Regions from separate parts of the Homo sapiens genome. Here region 1 is linked to region 2. Evidence: fine-mapped expression QTL. Tissue or cell type: fibroblasts. Region 2 holds a variant in brackets; the other region holds the start of a gene. All regions are shown on one strand. Distances are between the middles of the regions.

Region 1 (8,338 bases), 72 kb after region 2:
TTTACTTTATGTACTAATATATGTCTTAAATCATTTGCGCTGAGAATATATTCATATAGTATTTATGTACTTTCTAAGAAAAAGAAAAAGAGGTATTCAAAAGAAGGAATTAATATGAATGAATACAAGCTAAGAATGAGTTTGTTTGCATGGCACAGTGAGGCATCTCATCTAATTATGGTCTAGAATGCTTCTAGGTAGAAAGGGGAATTAAAATTTTACAGGAAAAATGGATCTAAATTAAAGTGAAATTTGGAACTAGAAAGAAGAGTTAAGGTTTCATCCTGTAGCTTTAGTATTACCTAGGTTAGTTAAGATGCTAGAAAGGGCCATAAAACCTCAACACCACCCCTGTGCCGTCACATTTGACCTTAGTAACCTAACGGGGGGTATGGTAAGAACCAAAATGTGACAAATCCACAAAACATCACCTAAAGTTCTCCTTCAGCTTGTCAAGTTTATTCAAAGTTGACTTTGGTTTTTTACAGTAGACCTATCAGAAGAGGTCAGAAAAGTAGGATTAGTTTCCAAAGGCAGCTTTTTCTTTTCTTTTTTAAGAAACAGGGTCTCCCTCTGTCATCTCAACTAGAGTGCAGTGGTATAGTTACAGTACACTGCAGCCTCAAACTCCTGTGCTCAAGAGATCCTCCCAAGTAGCTAGCACTACAGGTATTCACCCACATGCCCAGCTAATTTTTATTTTATTTTTTGTAGAGACAGGGGTCTTGCAATATTGCCAAGGCTGGTTTTGAACTCCTGACCTCAAGCAACCCTCCCACCTCAACCTCCCAAAGTGCTGGGATTACAGGCATGAGCCACCACACCAGCCAAGCAGCTTTATAAGGAAAGAATTGCACACGTCCCTCTACTTAGAAGAAGGTAGTTGGGCCCTTAGCAGGCATTTTGAATTTTACGGATTTCTTTCCATTACAGAACCACCGCAAGCAGAAGCTATATCAATCTCATAATTAGAAAGAACTTTTCAGATCATCTTCCTTCCAGTGGCTCTCCATTTTTCTCAGATGAAATCCCACTTCCTCACCTTTGTTTAAAGGCCCTTTGTGGTGTCTTCTCACAGCAATGCCTCGGCCCCTACCTTGTCCCTCCTTCACTGATTCTGCCACAAAAGCAAACTGTCCCAGTGCTGTTTCCACATCCCAGCAAGGATGGTAGGCATTCCCATGGGCATTTACCACTGATGACACTATCATGCATATGGCAAAGAAGGCTGTTCCCCTCTTTGCTAATCCTGCCTCCTATCCTCTTCTTAATAACCATGGAATAGCAGAGGTCAGGCTTGTACTTTTCTTAAGACTGTACTAATGGCTGGGTCATTTGGGAAAGGAAGTTGAATGCAAGAAAGGGAAATATAACTGCCACTAGCAGAGGCTATTTTGAGAGTCCACAGGCTTCAGCCCTCCTCAAAATCCATCATAGGGCTTCTTGTCGGCTTCACTCCTGGCCTGCAGCCATTGGCGGGGCGGTTTACTTCCTCGTGTGGCTTCTGTACATATTTATTCCTTTAAGTTCAATTCAATTGCTGAAAGGTTTCAAGAGAGAAAAAAACTTCTTGTAGTCCATGTCTCACCTTAGATGAATTAACCCCTTTGAGCCTGTTTCCTCTTTTGTAAAATGAGAAAAATAACAGCTAGTATATACGGGTTATTGTGAATATTAAATGAGTAACTATATGTAAAGCTTTTAGAACAGTTTCTACCAGTTCTGGATAAATGTTAATGAATTCTGGATAAGTTCTGGATAAATATTAAGTTCTGGATAAATGTTAGTTATTAATACCCACATCACATTATTGAACTTAATGCCGCATGTCCATTACCTTATACTTCCGCAGTTGGGCCTTTTGGCACAGGCAAAAAATTTATATTTTTCACTAATAAATTATATCTGGTGGCTTTGAATCATTATTCTAAACCGGTGGAATTTTTTCAGTAGAGTCTATCATCCAACATGTAGATTATTATCTTCAATTTAGTTTGGGATACCACCTGAGTTCTCCCTCACTGTAAATATTGATTTTATTTATTTAACAAATTGGTGAAGGGCCTCTTATGTGCCACGTTCCTGAATGCATGTGTGTGTATGTTGTATACTCATGAGTGTTTAAGGAGAGATAGAACTGTTTCATCTCAAAGGCGCATATAGTTTTTGATAAGGGAAGTATGTTGAGCACACATAATATAAACATTTAAATATTCGGAGATGGGGCAAGGTAAAGAAAGGATCCTGGATATGGGCTGACTTACTTTGAGCAAAGTGCTCCATAAGGATCTAGCCTGGAAGATCCTTGGAAGGATCTACGTTGGTATAGTTTTTAATTAGAGAAATTTATCTTGCAGAAATACATACTAGATAGGTTTTTATTTTTTAATCTTACTCCTTCAAATGTACAAATATTTATTAAATACATCACACCTTAAGGGCATGAACAGGGTGAGGTTAGCTTTGTTTAACCAAAACAGGGCAGCCCATGAAGCTTAAAAAAAAATCAAATATAGGACAAGTCACAAGAAGGCCTATTTTAAGGAGTGAGTAGTAAACTAAGAGCTCATCCAGACAAAAAAATATTTGGTAGCTTTAAAACTATTTCACATTTATTTGTAGTAAGGGTTCTACTTGGAAGATGCAAGCCTTGTGGCTAGATAACTATAAAATAAATTCTTGTGAGTTAATAGACTTTCAGCCTTTCAGAGAAATTAAAGCACATAATGGAAGAAGAAATACTCATGATTCTCAGTGGTGATGTGGAAGAGAAGAGAGCATTTTTGGCAGCCAAAGGGCCTACACAAAGCAACATATCCAGGAAGGACAAAGGGCTTGAACCTGTCCTACCCTAAACAGGAAGCATTTCAGGAGAGGACTGAGCAGGAGATATAGACTGTTGTGACTGTGGCTTTACTACATCAAAGGCTGCAGTGGATCTCAATAATGCAGAATGTTTCCTTTTGTAACTCATAGTGAATATGACTGGACAAGGAAATTATTTTGTAATTTGTTTCCTGAAAGATAAAGGAGTTAGAACATAGGATCTTTCATTGATTCTACAGAATCTTAAGACTCCTTCAGGGATGGCAGTCATTCCTACCGTGCTGAACATCATGTTGTCACGGTCAGAATCAGAACTAAATTGATTAAGGGTCTGAAACAGTTTGGCAACTCTTGGGCACTTATGCTGATAAGAAAAGTGATGAGACAGGGTAATGAAAAGAGGCTGCAAGAAATGACCATTCGTGCATTCAGCCAACATTTAGGCCACCCTCCTGTATTCCAGGCACTGTACATGGCACTGAGTATGCAAAGCAAAAGGAGTCATGGTCTACTGGCGGGAGCCTTCTCAGTGGAGAAAAGATCAACAAGAAAAGTGCCTGCTGGAGACCTCTCCTAGGGCATAAACCAATATAGAGGTGGGGCAGCTACGTCAGCCTGGGGTGTCCTTAGGCAGAACAGAAAGTGAGAATCAGAGCAGTATCTCATTTCTGAACACCTGGATTGTAGCTTTCCCTTGACTGTCAAAGGAGGTGGTTTTAAAAATCAAGCCAAACAGGTTTCCATCTTTTAGGAAGACCCTGGAACGTGCCAGTTGATTCTGACCATTTCTCATGAACAGAAACACCTAGGAAGGGAGAACTGGTGAGTTTCAAGAGGAGGAAGTCCCTCAAAAGGGGCTGTGTTTCGTAAACGGCGCCCCAAAAGGGCTGAACTACTTCGATCTGGAGGAAAAAGACTCAGGCACTGAGGGAAGGGGAGGGTGCACGTCTGGAGTAATTTTAAGGCCTTTTCCGTGTTATGTGATGTGGCAATAAGGAAAGATTTGTTCGTTTTATTATTTTTTTAATTTTTAAAGATTTTCTTTTCCCCCCTTTTCCCCCTCCCAGCCACTCCGGTTTGGGTTTGCCACAAGACTATAATTCCTTTAGAAAGTGGAGTCGAATTCATAAAAGTGATGGGGGGAGGGGCGCGGAGAGGGAAGGCTGGGAGCCCCAGGGAGTCTTCACGACCGCTCAGCTCCCGGCGCGAGTGGAGGTCGGTGTGGGGAGAAGCGGCTCCCGCCCGGGATGGCTAATACTCTGCGAGCCCCGGCAGCCCGCGGCCGGCGGGGTGACTAGGCGGCGGGCGCGGAGGGTCTGCGGCGGGCGGGCGGCGCTGCAGCAGCCTGGGCACGGCTGCCGCCGCCCGCGGGCGCGAGTGTGCGCGGGTGTGGAAGGCCGGCGTGCGAGCCGTGAGGGGTGTGCGCGCGTGAGCCGGAGCGGGGCTCGCCCCTCGCCGGCGCCCGCCGCCCAGCCGGTGATTGCTCTCTGGCTGTCCCCGGCACCTCGGCCCCCACGGCCGTTGGTCCGGGCGGGTGAGGGAGAAAGTGAGACTTGGTGTCATCACCATCCATTGTCAGAAGGGGAGGAAATTGGAATCCAGCAGCGGCGAGCAGCAGCTGGGCGGTCACATCTGGGAATGCAAAGCCGACCTCCCCCTCCTCCTCCTCCTCCCCCTCCTCCTCCTCCTCTTCTCTCACCCAGGATCACTTCCGAAACCACTTCGCCTTCAGCCCCTGCCTCGGCCAGAGGTTTCATTTTTAACTGAATATTTACGAAAGCTGGAAGCGTGCGAGGGGGGTGGGGTGGGGTGGAAATAGCGGCTGCTTCTTTTCCAGGGATTTATTTAATGGGGATGTGTTCAAGGCAAGAGCGAATTCAGAAGGATATCGACGTCGTGATCCAGAAGTCCAGAGCTGAGAAGGACTGCCTGTTTGCAGGTGAGTTCTTGCTTTTCCAGAACCTCGGACCCAGCGCCCCCTTCCCAGTTTTCTGACCGCGACGTCTGTGGCTGGGGGTGGGGTGGAGGGTTGCACGTCCCCATTCTGGGGTTCATTTGGCAACAGCTGCTGCAACGAGCGCGGGAGCCAAAAGGGGGAGGGGGCGCCAGCCTCTCCCCTTCCCCTCCCCCACCGCCAAGTCTGAGGCAGCCACCAGCTTTGAGGGCAGAGCCCGCGTGGCCGGAGCGGGGGTCTAGGCGAAGGGGCAGTGCGTGGTATTTCCAGCCCCGCGTAGTGCCCGAAGCCTCCAAGCACGCTTCCTGGGTTCCAGCAGCGGCGGCAGAGCGGGGTTGGTTTGCGCAATGGGCTGAGCGGCGGCGGCCGGGAATGGAGCCTGCTGCGCTGCGCTGCGCTTGTAAGCTGCGCCCGGCGCCGAGGACCCCCGGGGGGCAGCGCTCGGCCCATCTCCGGCCCCTTCGGCTCCCTCTAGTCCCCTCCGACTGGCAAAGAGAAGGGATTCCTCGGATTCCCAAGGCACCCAGCGCCCCTGCCTGGGGGTCGCCTTTCGTCCATTTTGCTCCCCCGGGATTTTGCTTTCGCTACCGCGAGCCCGGCTGAGGCTGCTTCCGGCCTCCCCTATCGGGAAATTCCCGCTGTTGCCATGGCACCCGGCACTTGTTGCGGGGGGCGGCCTCCCGCTGCACCCAGTCGGGGGCGCGCCGCATCCCCTCGGACGCGGCGCAGAGGGACCTCGCCGCCCTCTAGCCCTTGCCTTCTGCCCGGCCAGGCCTCCCCTGACACCACCGAATGTGGGGCTCAAGTCCTGATCGGGGTTAAAACAAATCCACTCCAGGGGTAGCTTTTGACGGGACTTTCTGTTTCAGATTTCAGATACTCTGACTCCACCTTTACTTTTACCTACGTTGGCGGCCCCAGAAGGTATTTATGTGTATAGAGTTGCTTCATTTCCTGTTCACACTCTTGTGTTTCCTTTGTTCTTAGCGTGTTCCGTGTTCGGGTATTTTGGTTGCTTGTTTGTTTGATTATTGTGGCTTTTCTTTACCTGCTACCCAAGCCTGACGTCCCTCGGTTTTAAATAGCAGGAGGAGGGGAATCAATGTTTGATTCAGGTGTTTCGAGGACCACGCCACAGGCAATGAGCAGAACTCTTCATGTTGAAACTGTTCTGCTACAGTACTAGATTGCTCTCAGGCGATTTGGGGTTGATACAGGCACGCCGGTGCAAAACTGGAATACTGGATATGAAGTGAAATGTATAAAAGACATAAAATGTCACAAAATAGTTTGATCAGAAGTGTTGATTTTCCTGGTGAGTTGGGGCTGCGTGTTTCCATGTTTTCTGAAGGTTTACATAAACATGCAGCCTGCCAATTCTCTGTACATTTTTTTTTCAATGAGTGGTATTTCGGTTTTCACGTATAGAAATTGGAGACTTATATGTAGCTGGAGTGGATGACTTCTTTCTTTTGGGGGAAGAATGAGAGATGCACATTTCGTTAGTAAATTGTGAACAACTTGAAACAAACCCAAATCCAATTTTGAATTTAGGAAGTAGAGTTAAAATGAAAGGTAGCCATTCAAATACTATGCCTTGCTACCTTCACTTGTTGAGTTAGGATTTTCTTCCTTTTAGCCCTTTAGGGACACAGTAGTTTAAAAGAGCAGTAGCCACATATGAGAAGTACCAGATTTAGCTTAGAGGGAATTCCTTAGACCAGCCCTGCTGTTAGGACTTGACATTCAATATTGTTTGATCACATTCCAAAATATATCTTAGCTAATGGAAACATTTATAAACATATAAATTGCAAAAGAAGCTTTCTTGTGTACATACATTTTTAAAAGCTTGAAATTGATGTGAACTTTTAAAAACACGTAGGATCTGTATTACATTATACATCTCAAAACATTTAAAGTGAATATCATTCCAGTATATGCAATATACCTAAGCCCCAGAATTAGCACATTGATTTACTAGTTGAAAATATAACAGTGAATCACCAAACTTAAGTGTATACTTTTTGGGAGAGAATGAAATTACAGTATTTCTTAATTTACTGTAATGTCATCTTTGTAATTATGAATTAATAATTCAATGAGAGGAGACTTGGTTGATTAAATTAACGCTGGTCCTACACATTATATCTAAAGGATCTTCGTATATGACTAATATCCTCTTGGATTATTTTAACAGTTAAAATATACAAAGTGGCCCATTAAAAACAGAGTTGACTTTTCACTATTGCTGTTTTTCTGGTGAGACATGTGGACAGGAAGGACAGGTGGGCTTTTCAAGTAACTAGCTTTCTGATTTTTAATAAGATACCTCAGTTCTTTTGGCCTCAGTTTACTTATCTGTACAATCAAAGGGTAAATCATATGCTTAATCACTAAGATCTGTTAGATACTGCAGTTAAGATTCTTTATCAGCAAATTATTGGACTCTAGTGTTAACATAGCTAGAGGTGGAAAAGGGAGCAAGGCCAGGTGTTGGGATGAATAATTAAGCGAGATAACATCAGTTTTCACCATAGGAAGAAGTACCATGGTTGCTCTTAAAGTAAGAGATGTTTCCTATTTTATGTAATTTTATTAAAGGATAGTGTTTTCTTTTGTCACTGATTTAAATGTACCTGGCTGTTTCTCAGCCATTTGGCTAAGATCGAGCACAAGTGTACCTGAGCCTTTTATATCTAATCTAATGTAGACCAGCCTGTTAAAAGAGAAAGACAATTGGTTAAACTGCTGATGTGTTGCTTTGTCTTCTCAAAAGCTTGTTCTAAAATACAATATGTAAAAAGTTGTTACAGTGTAGTAACCGTAGATAATCCCTTTATGATTTGTACCTAATGGCGAATACCTTTTATTTTCTGAAAATAACGTATTTGTTTTCATTACCGACATTATAAACCAATATTTATTAATCTATTTCTTATCCTGACATTTCAGTCAGACTCTTAAAATAATCTTGCTGTGTTTTGATTTAATGTGCTTATCAACTTGTAATATTGAATTAATAGTATCATTTTAGGTGAACTAGACTTTATTGAAGGAGGTGGGAGCCTTATGGAGAGAGAGTATATGATTATCTCTATTTGTATTTAACTACCATTTCATCTAACCATTAAGAACATATTTCAAGAATAATTTTAATTCAAGTTGTAGATAAAACTTACTATACCGTTTTCTTTTTGATGCTTTCCAAGAATGAGATACATGGTATTTTAAAGACAAAGATTGATCTTACATGTTACTATTAAAAAAAAATAATAATTTTGTTCTACATTTATACTTTTAATTTTTCTGTGGATAATAAGAAATGCCAAGAGGCGATTGTGTCCATGCTGGCAAGTGGCCTAATAAATTGTCCTTTTATTTGGTGGTCCTCAGAGTGGCAGTTAACATCTTGCTATTCTGCCTTGTGGACTTGAGGTGGAAAGGTTCATGGAATTATATCCTTGCTTTTGGATGTGCAAACTGAGGCTCAGAGAGTTTAAGACACATAGTCACTTTCATCAATTAAATGTTGAAGCTGCCATGTAAACCTGTTCC
Region 2 (8,338 bases):
CTGGCTGAGAATTCAGTGTTCTTTTCATTTAAATCACATTGCTTCACAAAAATAGATCCGCAGGAAGAATAAAAATGTCCAAAGTGCAATGAGACAGAGAAGATAATATGGAGACAGACATATTGCACAGAAAGCATTTGACCATATGTCTGCCTGGTCCCCTTCATGTGTTTTGTTCATAACTTACTTTACTCGGGCAGCAGGAGATAGCATAACAACTGTCAGAGTGAATTTAGGCCACAGTTTTGTGTTGCTGAATGTGTTGAGTCATTTCCCTTAGTTCACATTTCTACCTAACTTTATCTTTTAAGTCATCATCATGGCTTTAATCTCTTCTTTATTTTGACTGTTAAAATTTTGTAGCCATTATCCAAATAAAATATTTATTTTCACTCATGAGTCCCTAATCTTTCCCCAATGGAATTAGCTATTTATTTGATGCAATAGCTAGACCAGTAGGGTTAAAAATGCTTTTATAAAGACATTAATAGCTGGGTATGGTGGTGTGCACCTAGGGAGGCTATGGCAGGAAGATCACCTGAGTCCAGGAGTTTGAGGCCAACGCCTTCACAACATAGTGAGATCCTGTCTTTAAAGTAAAAATTTAAAAATTAAAAGAAAAGACATTTAAAAAGGTTGTTTACCAAAATGATGGTTAACTGACAGAAAATAGAAACTGAAACTAGAAATCATTGCCATCAGCTTTCTCTAATGTGTACTTGATCCTTTTCTCCATGTGATGAAAGTTGAAAGTCTTTTTTTTTTTTAATCCACTACTGTTCAAATGAGAATAAACAGCCAAATGACTGAATTAGTTGGTAGACATAATTCCTAGCCTTCAATTATTTTTATATTCTTTTGTAATACAGTCATGATTTTTTCAGGCTTCTATAATATTGCATTTAACCAATCCCCAAACAGGGAAACGTTATGTAATTTTTCTATTATTTACAGTTCCTTGATTATAATCTTTTATTTGAAAAGATTATATATTTATATAAAAACTCAGTTTCTTTCTTATATATAAACATTATTAGTAGTCTAAAAATGTCATTCTCAATAAAAAGGATGAGTGAACTTGAGGACTAGAGAATCAGGTAGTCACCATCAGAGAACTGGTTTAACAAACAGAAGGGGCCTACCCAGATACAGAGAAGTCAGGCAGGGCTGTGGTGTGAAAATGTTAGAGAAGCTTGATGGGAGGCCTAATATAGTTTGTCTTTACACCTGTATATTTTGCTTCTTGCATCTGCTTGAATGCCCTCTGTCATTTATTATAACTAGATTTATTGTTCCAATAGGTTTGTACTACAGTCAGAACAAACAAATCACTGGATCCAGCAGAAACCTTAGATATATGACATAACAGAGATTTGCAGAAAGATTTGTCCCATTGCCTTCTCGAATTTCTCTTATCATCAGTCCATCTAGCTGGAGCTCTCTGAAGGTCATCAGAGGTCAGTATAATTTTAATAAGATTTTAACTGAAGGATAGCCTTGATGTTCAGTGACCTTCAGACATGTTTGTTTATAATTGAGAAGCCACTCCCCCTGTTGAATGATAACCTCTTCCATGAATTACCAAACCAATGCTGCTCACATTTTGATTAACCATTGATTCCCATAAATCCAGCGTCCCCCAACACTGATTATCTAAATAACCTGAATTATTTGCATTGCCTTATCAATTCCATCTCATTTCCTGTCTTGGTGGTTTTGCTCACACTGCTTCTATGTGGAATGTCCATATGTACCCACCCGAGTTTCCACTTCATCATTCCATCATCTGTAGTCCACTATCCATCATCAGGACTAATGTGAGCTGACTTTCCTCCAAAAAGCTTTCCCTGAACTTATCCTAAAATAACATTTTTCTCTGCTAACTTACCATTTGTCATATGTTCGTATACAGCTTCTCTAACTGTCATGAAATGAAATAAATGGGAGGAAGATGAAACTTGAAAAGAAATCTGCTCCTTAAGGCAGGCCCTGGGGGAATAGGCCTGGCTGGAGGTAATGTAAGGTCTAGATGGTGTTTTTAGAATCTGAAGACTACAACACCAAACACAACAAGTATAAGCCTAGGCAAGCTGTCAGTGCAAGGCCTAAAATTAGGTATTTCAACAAGTGGATGAATCAATTTGGGGAATTGTATTAGTAAACAGAGGAAGCCTGTCCAGTAAAAGGGAGGGTAAGCAGGGATGCAGTTTAAAACTATTGAGGAATAATGGCTAAGAAATAGCAAAATTAACACATGGCCTAAAATATTAAGAAATTAAGCCTGTTATTGAATTACTGACCAGGCTAGTATATAGGAGCATTAACAACACAAAAACAGATTAGGTCACGATTAGCAGTGGGGGTGAAATAATCTTCAGGGCTGAAATACTGAGCTAGAAATATTTAAATCCTCCTTGCAGATGAAAAATATAGAGGACAATTTGTTGGTTCAGCATGAATTTCTAGTCTTTTGTTAAGAAGCTAGAACAGAAATACTCTCTTTCATTGCAAGTGAACATTGAGGCAGTAAACTCCAAATATAGCTGCAGGTACCATCTCCTGCTGATTTGTGTGTATAGAGCATGAAAGAAAGGCTCAGAAACAAAAGCATGTCGGAAAAATAAGCAGGAGGCATTTACTTGCAAAGAAATGTGAGGAAGTCAGTCTTCAAAAGAACTGGCCCAAAAAATTTAAAAAATAGAATTTTTTAAAACAAACAGTATTGTGAAGACTATAGGCTTTATATTAGTCTCTTCATGGCAGAAAACAGCAATTTTATCATGGTTATTGTATTCAAAAAGTTCATGACATATCTTCAGACAATAAATAGCATTGTAAAGTCAAGGATAAAGTAATTTTCATTAAGGAGTTAGCAACTCTCAGGAAATGCTCAAGGTTTTATTCATTTGGAGGACTGCAAGTAAACAGAGAGACTCTTTTATTGTTTCTTTATGTCAGAGTGCAGAGGTTTTTTTCTCTGTTTCTTCAGCAGTGGGACATGATGTACGGGCTGACAATGGTGTCAGGCCCAGATGTCACTTTGGTTTTTACACTTCATCTTGTGGTCATGTTTCCTCCTCTACAGGACATGTTTGTCTACCTACATTTGCTGAACAATGTTCCTAATCAGTACTATTGATTTTACATTTTACTTTGAGCCATTTTATTTGCACAGATCTAAGAAGAAGTGTTGATTATATTAATTTAATGACCTCCTAGTATTTTTTTGACGAAACAATAAACTAAGGCTTACAAGTTTATGTCTATCTATAGATTTATAAAGCCCTTGTGGTTTAAATTTACTTTTACATGTTTAACAGCTCAGTTTAGAGCAGACCAAACCAGTCAGCTCACCTCTACCTGATTTCACCTGCAGTATTTATAATGCAAATGTATCCTTTTTAATAAAAGATATCCAGATGTCTTGATGTCCCTGCTCTGCCAAGAAAGGACATTCTTTTTAACCTCCAAGCCTGAGATTGCATAGTCCATACAGCATGTACCAGACTGGTTTCCTAGAAGGATGTTATAGGCATCACTTCTGCGTGAAAAACATAGAAATTATTCTTATTACTGGATTTGTCTTGTCTAATTTAATTGAATTTGTAGCACAGCTATAAATTTTTTATTAAAAAATTAATTCTTCCTGGCCAGGCAAGGTGGCTCACGCCTGTAATCCCAGCACTTTGAAAGGCTAAGGCGGGCAGATCACCTGAGGTCAGGAGTTTAAGACCAGCCTGGCCAACATGGTGAAACCCCGTCTCTATAAAAATACAAAAATTAGCCTAGCATGATGGTGGGTGCTTGTAATCCCAGCTACCCAGGAGGCTGATGTGGGAAAAGTGCTTGAGCCCAAGACTGGAAGTTTGCAGTGAGCTGAGATCATGCCATTGCACTCCAGCCTGGGCAAAAGAGCAAGACTCCATCTAAAAAAAAAAAAAGATTTTTCTAATTAGTTATATATTCAGGTAGAAGGGAGGACAAATTCTTATTGAACCAATACAAATAACTACATAGTCACAAAAAGTAAATGTTTTTATTAAAGAAACTTTGTGTAAGAATTAACCAATATTGCTAATTAAGAGTATGTTAATAGACAAAACCAAATATTGTATGTCACAATTCTTTACAAAATAATTATTTGTATGTTTTTCTTGGCAATTTATTAGCTTTGTTTTTATATTAAGAATTTCTACAAGGTATTTTTTTCCTCAACACTAAGAATTCAGAGTGTTTTATTTAGTTTTTACAAATTCAATAATTTGTAAATTTAATTGGAGGTTAAAGATAGATTAAGAAGAAAGAAAATGGGTTTCTCTCATGTTCATTAAAGTAGAAAATTAAACTAACCTCAATTAAATCGCTTTATTGAGGTCCTTTAATCCTAAATAACAACCTCTTGTCATGCTGGTCTTGAGTTAAGCAGTCTGCTTTCATGAATTCATCTGCTTCTACATTGTGAGTGTCTTGGAAATCCTGACTCATTTACTTGGTATAGTTGGAATATTGTTTGTGGGGACAAGGTCAGCCTATTCTTGGAGGCCTATATCCATGAGTCAATTTCCT[G/A]TGGTATCAACAGTATCAACAGTGTCTGCTACGGTTTTTACTGGAGCTCTTTTGATATTTCTTCCAGATGACTTAAATTCTGATTGGCGCTTTGTAGAAAGGCTTTTAGGTATGCTTAAAGGGAAAGAAGGGCTGGGCACAGTGGCTCATGTCTGTAATCCCAACACTTTAGGAGGCTGAGGCAGGTGGATCACTTGAGGTCCGGAGTTTGAGACCAGCCTGGACAACATGGTGAAACCCTGTCTCTACTGAAAATAGAAAAATTAGCCATGCGTGGGGGTGGGCACCTGAATATAGCTACTCAGGAGGCTGAGGTAGGAGAACAGCTTGAACCCGACAGGCAGAGTTTGCGGTGAGCTGAGATCACACCACTGCACTCTAGCCTGGGCAACAGAGAGAGATTCCATCTAAAAAAAAAAAAAAAAGCAGCGGGGATAGGGGGAGGAGATGTTGTTGATAATAAAACTGTAAAGTTTGGTTAATTTTTTGTCATAGCAAACAACATCACAATGGGGGATAGTGGCATTCTCTGTTGAGGCATAATACATACTCATTTAATGAAATTTTAATCAGTGATTACCATAAAAGACAGAACACATTAAGAACAATTAGTGCATCCTGATACCTCTCCAGGGCCTTTAATTTTCCCCACAAAGCAGATATTATTATTTGTCACCAACTGATGTTTACTTCTTTTTTTTAATTATTGTACTTTAAGTTTTAGGGTACATGTGCACAACGTGCAGGCTTGTTACATGTGAATACATGTGCCATGTTGGTGTGCTGCACCTATTAACTTGTCATTTGCATTAGGTATATCTCCTAACGCTATCCCTCCCCCCTCCCCCCACCCCACAACAGCCCCCGGTGTGTGATGTTCCCTTTCCTGTGCCCATGGGTTCTCATTGTTCAATTCCCACCTATGAGTGAGAACATGCGGTGTTTGGTTTTTTGTCCTTGCAATAGTTTCCTGAGAATGATGGTTTCCAGCTTCATCCATGTCCCTACAAAGGACGTGAACTCATCATTTTTTATGGCTGTATAGTATTCCATGGTTTATATGTGCCACATTTTCTTAATCCAGTCTATCATTGATGGACATTTGGGTTGGTTCCAAGTCTTTGCTATTGGGAATAGTGCCACAATAAACGTACGGGTGCACGTCTCTTTATAGCAGCATGATTTATAATCCTTTGGGTACATACCGAGTAATGAGATGGCTGGGTCAAATGGTATTTCTAGTTCTAGATCCCTGAGGAATCACCACACCAACTTCCACAATGGTTGAACTAGTTTACAGTCCCACCAACAGTGTAAAAGTGTTCCTATTTCTCCACATCCTCTCCAGCACCTGTTGTTTCCTGACTTTTTAATGATCACCATCCTAACTGGTGTGAGATGGTATCTCATCGTGGTTTTGATTTTCATTTCTCTGATGGCCAGCGATGATGAGCATTTTTTCATGTGTTTTTTGGCTGCACTAATGTCTTCTTTTGAGAAGTGTCTGTTCATATCCTTCGCCCACATTTTGATGGGGTTGTTTGTTTATTTCTTGTAAATTTGTTTGAGTTCATTGTAGATTCTGGATATTAGCCCTTTGTCAGATGAGTAGGTTGCAAAAATTTTCTCCCATTCTGTAGGTTGCCTGTTCACTCTGCTGGTGGTTTCTTTTGCTGTGCAGAAGCTCTTTAGTTTAATTAGATCCCATTTGTCAATTTTGGCTTTAGTTGCCATTGCTTTTGGTGTTGTAGACATGAAGTCCTTGCCCATGCCTATCTCCTGAATGGTATTGCCTGGGTTTTCTTCTAGGTTTTTTATGGTTTTAGGTCTAGCATGTAAGTCTTTAATCCATCTTCAATGAATTTTTGTATAAGGTGTAAGGAAGGGATCCAGTTTTAGCTTTCTGCATATGGCTAGCCAGTTTTCCCAGCACCATTTATTAAATAGGGAATCCTTTCCCCATTGCTTGTTTTTATTAGGTTTCTCAAAGATCAGATAGTTGTAGACATGTGGCATTATTTCTGAGGTCTCTGTTCTGTTCCATTGGTCTATATCTCTGTTTTGGTACCAGTACCATGCTGTTTTGGTTACTGTAGCCTTCTAGTATAGTTTGAAGTCAGGTAGTGTGATGCCTCCAGCTTTGTTCTTTTGGCTTAGGATTGACTTGGCAATGTGGGCTCTTTTTTGGTTCCATGTGAACTTTAAAGTAGATTTTTCCAATTCTGTCAAGAAAGTCATTGGTAGTTTGATGGGGATGGCATTGAATCTATAAATTACCTTGGGCAGTATGGCCATTTTCACGATATTGATTCTTCCTATCCATGAGCATGGAATGCTCTTCCATTTGTTTGTATCCTCTTACATTTTGTTCAGCAGTGGTTTGTAGTTCTCCTTGAGGAGGTCCTTCATGTCCCTTGTAAGTTGGATTCCTAGGTATTTTATTCTGTTTGAAGCAATTGTGAATGGGAGTTCACTCCTGATTTGGCTCTCTGTTTGTCTGTTATTGGTGTATAAGAATGCTTGTGATTTTTGCACATTGATTTTGTATCCTGAGACTTTGCTGAAATTGCTTATCAGCTTAAGGAGATTTTGGGCTGAGACGATGGGGCTTTCTAGATATACAATCATGTCATCTGCAAACAGGGACAATTTGACTTCCTCTTTTCCTAATTGAATACCCTTTATTTCCTTCTCCTGCCTGACTGCCCCGGCCAGAAATTCCAACACTACATTGACTAGGAGTGGTGAGAGAGGGCATCCCTGTCTTTTGCCAGTTTTCAAAGGGAATGCTTCCAGTTTTTGTCCATGCAGTATGATATTGGCTGTGGGTTTGTCATAGATAGCTCTTATTATTTTGATATATGTCCCATCAATACCTAATTTATTGAGAGTTTTTAGCATGAAGCGTTGTTGAATTTTGTCAAAGGCCTTTTCTGCATCTAATGAGATAGTCATATGGTTTTTGTCTTTAGTTCTGTTTATATGCTGGATTACGTTTATTGATTTTCATATTTTGAACCAGCCTTGCATCCCAGGGATGAAGCCCACTTGATCATGGTGGATAAGCTTTTTGATGTGTTGCTGGATTCAGTTTGCCAGTTTTTATTGAGGATTTTTGCATCAATGTTCATCAAGGATATTGGTCTAAAATTGTCTTTTTTTGTTGTGTCTCTGCCCAGCTTTGGTATCAGGACGATGCTGGCCTCATAAAATGAGTTAGGGAGGATTCCCTCTTTTTCTATTGATTGGAATAGTTTCAGAAGGAATGGTACCAGCTCCTCCTTGTACCTCTGGTAGAATTTGGCTGTGAATCCATCTGGTCCTGGACTTTTTTTGGTTGGTAAGCTATTAATTATTGCCTCAATTTCAGAGCCTGTTATTGATCTATTCAGAGATTCAACTTCTTCCTGGTTTAGTCTTGGGAGGGTGTATGTGTCGAGGAATTTATCCATTTCTTCCAGAGTTTCTAGTTTATTTGCATAGAGGTGTTTATAGCATTCTCTGATGGTAGTTTGTACTTCTGTGGGATTGGTGTTGACATCCCCTTTGTCATTTTTTATTGCATCTATTTGATTCTTCTCTCTTTTCTTCTTTATTAGTCTTGCTAGCGGTCTATCAATTTTGTTGATCTTTTCAAAATAACAGCTCCTGTATTCATTGATTTTTTGAAAGGTTTTTTGTGTCTCTATTTCCTTCAGTTCTTATCTGATCTTAGTTATTTCTTGCCTTCTGCTAGCTTTTGAATGTGTTTGCTCTTGCTTCTCTAGTTCTT

Which allele goes with the higher level. Positions count from the first base shown, and alleles are read on the strand shown. Sizes are in standard deviations (SD) of each study's normalised expression.
For the expression in fibroblasts of the gene that starts at base 4,216 in region 1, allele G in region 2 goes with a higher level than allele A (moderate effect, 0.71 SD a copy in GTEx).

What was found.
Region 1: it holds the start of PARP8, and the variant in region 2 is fine-mapped to the expression of PARP8 in fibroblasts (GTEx, PIP above 0.99).

The regions. Positions count from the first base shown.
Region 1 is chr5:50,662,422-50,670,759 of GRCh38, forward strand. PARP8 (poly(ADP-ribose) polymerase family member 8) reads left to right here and starts at 4,216. Exons shown (of 26, transcript NM_024615.4): 1 at 4,216-4,765; 2 at 5,650-5,704. The coding sequence starts at 4,675. RefSeq lists silencers at 4,059-4,208, 4,259-4,318, 5,011-5,340 and enhancers at 4,491-5,403, 4,839-6,038.
Region 2 is chr5:50,590,851-50,599,188 of GRCh38, forward strand. No RefSeq gene overlaps it. Among named protein-coding and RNA genes, the nearest start is that of PARP8, 72 kb to the right of the region's middle. The variant G/A (reference allele first, on the strand shown) is at 4,567.